Linked DNA regions of Homo sapiens. The protein of the gene in region 1 interacts with the protein of each later gene in a pairwise test. Each region holds a gene or a part of one and is shown on either strand. Other genes may lie near its edges.

Region 1 (4,006 bases):
TACATATCAAAAGACTAAATTAAGCCCCCTTCCTAATGGAATAGATAATCGTTTCTTCAAAAAGTGGTAGTATTTAGAAAAAGCCCTATTCTTTAACAATGGGGAAAGCCACTGCAAGAAAAATTTTGATGAGTCACGAAAAAAGTGATCTCAAATAAATTATGTCCATTATGATACTATATACTGTAGTTTGGAAACTTGGTTTATCTGATCTCTTTATACCACTCTCTGATGGTCTCTGGGTTAGAGAACTTTTATCTGGTTCCTATCAGTAATATACATACCACATTTCATTTTAAGTTGGATTTCAAATTTAATTACTTGATAAACTATTGTATCTAAGTAAGGGTAAGATGAATCACTTTTCCTGCTTTTGCTGTTAAATTTTTAATTTTTGTGTGTATTCTACCCGTCCCCTGCCTACTTCCCGTTATTTGAATTCTGCACTTGGTTCCTGTGCTGTTCCTATCCTTACTTAACACTTCAACATATCCCCACAAATCTGAGCTCACATGGTGCTCTAATGCTTTCAACTAAATCTGTACTCACCAGTATGTCTCTCAGTTCTTTTGGCAACTTGTTCTTTTATGTAAATTGTATACAAAATATGATTTGCATATTTTAAATATGATGTGAACAAAAAGAGCAATGCTATTAGTGTTCAGAATCACAAATTTATATTTTTAAAATTAGGAGTTAATTAAAATCCCTTTCATTATGAAAAGGGTACTACATTGCAAGTAATTCACATTAAAAGGCATTCTATTCAATAGATGTGTTTATTGGTGGGTCAGTTTTGCCAATGTTTTAATTCACATGTAATTATGTAGACCCTGTGTCAGCAACAACTAACAATACTACTACTTTAACTGAAAAAATGATAAACTGTTTCCATTGATATACTCTGTGATTATTTTATAATCCTCAAGTTTTATAGTCTTTTACAGAAAAAAATGATAATAAAATATGGCGATAAACTGCAATTTGCCACATTTCCTCCAAATCTTAGACAGTATAAAACACAAGACATTTTTTTGTGCACTCTACTTTTATAGAACAACCAGGTTTATAATTGATCTCTTTATTTTATTAGATTTATCAATATACATGGAAGCTTTCTCAAATCTCAAAGTTCCAGAAGTATGTATTGTAAAAAATCATCTTTTCCTTTAGAGGTCATATTCTTAGAGAGCTATTAAAGTCTATTTATAAACAAAAATAATTGATAAGCTAACACACTTTAGAAATCAGAATATTTTAAATTAAAATATTTTTAATGAATACAAGATATGTCTTTTTAATTAACTATCATAGTTAAATTTAATATCACAAAACAAAATGGCTTATCCCCACTAATTTTTCAAGTGAGGTAAAGCCACTGGAATTTACACTTAATATAAGTTTTAAATGTGATAATTAAATGATAATATTTTATCAATTATAGGAAATATTCATTTATAAAAATTTCCTCAGGTTCATCAATCTTTTTAGGCCAAGTTTGAGCCCATGTCAACCTTAAAGGTTAGATTCAGTGCACCTAACTTGCCTAATAAGCTTGTCAATTTAAGAATATGAATTTCATTAATAAGGGGGAATAAAGAGTAGTTAACTCACTAAAAGCAAACGGGATAGTTTCAAATAATTACTTAAGGAATTTTTAAAATTTAAACAGAAATGGCCAATGATTCTGGGTTTAAAATTTCACAGGATAACCTTAAAAAAAAAAAAACACATAGAAATAGTGAAGTCATCACCTTATTGATGAAAAACTAAAGTTTAATAGTCATTGAATGGGTAACAACCACTTGTAGTCTACATTTAAAAATTTTAATCATAGCTAAGAAAAACTAAAAACAAATAATTCTATTAAGAAACAACAAAAATGATAAACATTTAATACCTAAATGTAGATACTTAAAATCCTAAACAAAAATATTAAAGTTAAAAGGGCCTTGAAATTTGTTTCTAACAAATCATCTTATATAATCAATTCCTAAATAGCTCATATCCTTTGCTTTGGTGTTTTATCTGCTATCATCTAAACATTAGTACAGTAGAAAATCACTCAGGTTCTTTTCAAATGCTTGGCATTATAATGTGATCTCATATCTTTCCTCAAATTAAATTTTGCTCCACATATTCCACATGTATACAGATGAACATCCATGTGCTGCTCCAACTGTTCATTATTTGGGAATATCTGAAAGCAGACCTGGCATATAGTCTCACCAGCAGATAAATGAGAAATCATATGCCGTACATGGTCATGTTTTCTGAAGTTTCCTTGATCACAAATGGAACAGACATACCTGGCCATGCCTTTGTGCATATCATTGTGCAGTCGCAACTGACGCTCTCTTAAAAACTGCTTTCCACATGTTTGACAAACAAACTGTTTTTCCTTAGTATGAACAGTATAGTGTTCTCTTAAGTGACACCGCTGATAAAATCCTTTTCCACACAGATTACAAAAATGCTTTCGTCTGTGATCTCTTTCATTTTCTTCCATGATGGCACTCTTAAACATATCTTGATCTAAGCAGCTAGACATATGTTCAACCACTAGATTTTCAGTTTCAAAACGCTGGCCACAATTAGGACATCGAAAAGGGCAGGCAGAATGTTTAAATAACTGCTTTTTTTGGATACTGTTTATCTGGTAATGATTGTCCCTAAAATCATCCAGCATTTCAACAAACATATCTCTTATTTCGGACTGCTCATCAGGATTCTCTTCCAAGTCCATTTTCTCCTCAGTATTTCCTAACCCATTCATGGTCAGATCTTGGGGCTCGCCACATCGTTGAGCATGTTCCTGAAGCTGCCTACCCTTTACAAGTATTTGTCCACATTTACCACATGCACAGATATTTTCAATGTGTTTGGCTAAGTAATGAGATGACAGGTCCTCCTCGGTTATTGTAAGTCCACACAGCTCACAAGATGCATTTTCAGCATCCTCTTGTACTGGACTGCTGTTGTTAGGGGGCCTCATATTCTCTAAACCACCTCTTTCATCAGCACTTACTGACATTCGAGGTTTTAGAGTTTTCCTACCACTTTTTTTTATGCTGACATCTTCTTCAACATAGTATCTATAAAATGGCTCTTCAGGTTCATCTTCTAATTCATCATTGTCAGTGGATTCATTACAGTCTTTATCAGTAACTTTAATAATGTTAAAGTCTTTCAGTTCATCTGTAGGAATATCTTCTGGCTCCATCTTAATAATAATCCTTTTCCTCTCAGCAGCTCTGCTTTTCTCTTCGCTTGCTATTTCAGACTCCACTGTGCTACTTTTTCTGCTTCCAGTGGTTGAAGCTGAATCATCAGCAGCCTGGCTTGTGTCTCCTCTGTATTTGTCCGTCTGTGCAGAAAATGTTTTGGAAGAATCTTTTTCACCAAATTCAGCTTTGATGTTACTGTCTTTTCCATCTCTAATATCTACTATTCTATGGTAAGATCTTGTGTTTTGGTATAAATGTCTGTTAGTACAGGTTAGCACATGCTCATCTAATAATTTTTCACAGCTAAAGCCAAATCCACAGCTATCACAGGTAAAACTCCGCCCAAAGCGTCTTGACACACGTTCTTTTGGAGTAGATAATTTGGACACGGAACTTTTTTTACATACATCAAATAGTGGCTCAGGAAAATTACCTAATTGTAAAGACTCTTCATCAGCCTCTCTATTATGTGGTGTATTTACCGTTGAACTTGGCTCTGCACACCACCTGTTGGCTTCATTGCCATTTCGAGCCACAGTATCTTCATACATTCTTACCCCAAATATCATTTTGCTGTTCTGTTTGCTGGAAGCAGAAGAGGAACATTTTGAACTAGAACAATCTGCATCCTGGATGTCTTCTAAACAGTCAGGAACATTGTATAGCTGTAGGTAGTTCATTGCCACTTTAAACTGCTCAAAACTGGAGGGAGCTGTCATAATTTTTCCTAAATACATAAACTGCAAAATGAGATCAAAACATTCTGCACTAATTTTCAT
Region 2 (3,824 bases), on another chromosome or scaffold:
CTGTCTCTCTCTAGCTCTGTGATCTCATATAAATCACATAAGCTCAGTTTCCCCACATAACCTCAGTTCCTCATTTGTAAAATGATGGGACTTCATGATGTAGAATGTTTCTAAGTTCTGTCTAACCTTTGTGAATGGATGAGAGGTTATGTGCTTTGAACTTTTGGAGAATACGGCATTAAATGTGAATTCATGCCTACTTTCAACCTGCACTGCTCTGATTGCCAAGTCTACTGAGAATCATTTTAAAGTTTCCCAAAATATGTAAGATCCCAAATCCTTCTGTTTTCCCTCACATGTCCTTTCAGGAAACCCAAAATCTGTTTCCAAAATCCAAAGTGTGAGGACACTTTCAATGCTGCAGCAACCAAGATTGGTGTTGATCTGGCAGTATTCACTCTCAAAACGAAAAACTGAGAGCTGGCCGGGTGCCGTGGCTCACACCTGTAACCCCAGCACTTTGGGAGGCCGAGGCAGGCAGATTGCTTGAGCCCAGGAGTTCGAGACCAGCCTGGCCAACATGGTGAAACCCCATCTCTACTAAAATACAAAAATTAGCCAGGCGTGATGGTGTTTGCCTGTGGTCCCAGCTATTCTGGAGGCTGAGGTGGGAAGATTGCTTGAGCTCATCAGGCAGAGGTTGTAGTGAGCCGAGATCATGCCACTGCACTCCAGCCTGGGTGACAAAGTGAGACCCTGTCTCAAAACAAAACAAACAAAAAAAAGTTGAGCACTTACTCCTTGTAGACCTGCACTTGGACAACCTGCACTAAATCTGCACCCTCCTCAGGTACAGGCAAGACGCTCCACTGACCTGGCTGGGCCATGTGGCTGCAGCTCTCACATGACATTCGCTGACACCAGGGCCACGTGACAGGCCCCCACATACATGTGTGCAGCACATACAGCTTCCAAAACATTTTATACACATGATCTTATGTGATCCTTAAAGCAGCTACATGAGGTGGGCTGGGAAATTATTAAAACCTAATCTGGCAGATGAAGAGGGAAGTTAGTGGTTTTTCCAAAATCACATCACATGCAAAAGAACGGACAAATCTTGGCCCTGAGGAAAGTGATCCTCCCCTCATCCCTCATCATCTTTTGGTACACACAGTTGCTACGGAATGATCCACAGGTCACGGCTTCCCATTTCCCTTGTCTTTCCCAAGAAGCCCCAGCTCTCTCCATGCTCTGGATTCTGAGGGGTCTCCCCTGACCTCTCACCTCCTTGTCTGGGGGCATCATCTTGACGTGTCTCTTCTCACACTCTTCCCACACCCTGTGCTCCCCAGGGTCGGGCTGGCCTCACCGTGTGGGAACACCCTTGGGCTGCACAGCTGAGCTCTGCCTGCTTGCCCTGGGCCTTCTTTGTGTCTTTGGTCACAGCACACATATCAAAAGCCATCACTCAAAACATCAGGCACACCTGAGATTTCCTGGGATTGGCTGAGGAGAGGATTTACAGAGCCCAGCTGCCCTCGGCAGCTCCATTTGTCACTGCCTGAGAGAGATTAGCATGGCTCCTTGTCGCACACCTTATGTAGGTGAGAGGGATAGAGGTTTGTTTGTACAATAGCTGCCAGGCGGCTGACTGACCTTGGTAAAAAGGGAGATAATTACACAGCTGTTCAGGAACAAAAGCAAAAAAAAAAAAAAAAAAAAAAAGGGAACATAAGTGAACTGTGCTCAGCAGTACAATTTTTCTCTTTGGGGGATGCCTGGTGTTACTTTGAACTGCTATTCTTGGTTAATAGGGACCTCCATGGGCCCGTGTCCTACACAGGATACACGGTGGTGGATGCTTAGTAAATTTGCAAAATTCTGGCAGGGCGTGGTGGCTCACATCTGTAATCCTAGCACTTTGGGAGGCTGAGATGGGAGGATCGCTTGAGGCCAGAAGTTCGAGACCAGCCTGGTCAACATAGTGCGACCCCGTCTCTATTTCTTTAAGAAAAAATTCATAAAATTCTGACCCTATCAGGAATATTCTAGAAGGATAACTGTGAGGCAGACTTATGTTGGGCCTTCAGCTTTATATGACAACCTCACACCTCCTATAAGAAAGAGCCTGCTGTGCAAGATTCTCTGTGCAGACCCTCACAGAAGCCGCCTGGGGATCTCTTGTGGACAGCCTCAGGCCTTTCCCTAGGATAATGCTAAGTCAGGTATGGGCATCTCTAAAAACAAAACAAATTGAAATCTACAGTAGCAGTCTGCAGGGAAGGCTTTCTCTCAAAGCTGAGGAATTATAGGGCGAGGGTGGACAAAGATGCTTAAGGTAAAGCTGTATTTGTGTTAGGCTTTCCTTTAACTCACAGATTTCCTGAGCTGTTTTAAAAGCTGTGGGGAGTTTTCTTAAGTTTGCACCCTGTGTGTGACCCAGAGTTCAGGTTTCCAGGTAGTTCTGCAGGCCTTATTATTCTGCTATTGTTCCTGATCCATTGTTCATTACCCATTCTATAGAATTCTTCTCAATTCCTCTTCCTGTCAATTTCCTCTAAGAAACAGAGTTCTCTGAATTATTATTTTTTTCTTCAAGCTAGAAATATTACGGCTTATGGAGCATGTGAGACAGTCCCCGCCATGTGCTGATTACACAGACCCCTGTACCAGAAATCAGAAGGAAAGGAGTCAGACTTGAATCAAAGAAATGTCTCTGGCACACAGGCCTTCAAATTGATGGCTGGAGCCTGTCTTTTAAGAACAAATTAATTCATTATAGGAAAAACCCTAACTAATTGAAAGGTCTAAATTCTTCAGGTTCTCTTGTGATCCTGGGAAATGCTAGACCGTGAGCATCTTGATGGAGGATGTGAACTGCCACTTCCTCACAGGCAGCAGGCAGGTGCTGAATAAGTGCTTGCTGAATGAATGAATGAATCACGCCAAGGGGCATGTTACCTGTTCCGCCAAAATCTGCTGCTGCTGCTGCTGCTGCTGCTGCCTTTGCTCCCGCAGGAACTGTTGCTTCTGCTGCTCTATCAACTGGGCCCGCTGATCAATGAGCATCTGCTTCATGATGGCTGCTTGGGGCTGGCTGCCCAGGAAGCCGGGGCCTGCGGGACTGGCTCCTGAGACCATGCCACCTGAGCCTGGGGGCACGGAGGACTGCATGGGGCCTGTGGTTCGGGGAAGTCCAACTGGATGCTGCTCCTGGGAAGACAAGAGAGAGGGAGATGCAGGGATTCCCCATAGAGACTCACTGCTGTTTGAAGGGAAGCCCCTGGAAAAAGGGAACGGGGCAGAAGTCCCAGCTTATGGACTGGAGGGTTTTTGAGTGGCACGCATTGCATTTCCATAAACGTAGCTTCAAACCCGACCTTACCTGAGTAGAATGAGAGAGGCCACAAGGGACAGTAAGAGAGCATGGCTCTGGGAAGTCCAAGGCCAAGTCCAGTCTGTTTCGGATGGGACTGACTATTGCATATAGACTGGATTTTCAACTAACATCCTGTGTTCCTCCAAGGAAAGGGAATAAGCCCTCAGGCTGAGCTCACCTAAAGTCTGGAACACGAGACACATCCTGACCTCACCTGTTAATCCTTATTTCTTACTGTCTACTTGGCCAAAATGGACGTCTTCTTTGCAAGTAGGAGGGACATTTGCAGAAAACTGCAGGAATTTGTTAATCAACAGATCTGATATTTGATGGAATTCTAACGAGTTGCAACATTTGAGAGCTTAGATATATGTCAGAAAGAAAAATCCTCCTGGCCAGAGTTGTTGATGGTGAGAACTGGGAATGTTTTACACCGATCAAAGCTATGTAATCTCCTAATATTTTTAAAAATAGAATTGAGTCGGCCGGGCGCGGTGTCTCA

What was found.
Region 2: the proteins of ZBTB1 (region 1) and MAML3 interact in a two-hybrid assay, tested with the Homo sapiens proteins (one large-scale study listed by BioGRID and IntAct).

Annotation. Positions count from the first base shown.
Region 1 is NC_000014.9:64,521,706-64,525,711, reverse strand, and holds the end of ZBTB1 (zinc finger and BTB domain-containing protein 1), read right to left. Parts: coding exon 2,066-4,006; 3' UTR 761-2,065; downstream 1-760.
Region 2 is NC_000004.12:139,727,512-139,731,335, forward strand, and holds part of MAML3 (mastermind-like protein 3), read right to left. Parts: exon of another isoform or gene 3,157-3,824; coding exon 2,905-3,156; exon of another isoform or gene 2,764-2,904; intron 1-2,763. UniProt on the Homo sapiens protein: Acts as a transcriptional coactivator for NOTCH proteins. Has been shown to amplify NOTCH-induced transcription of HES1.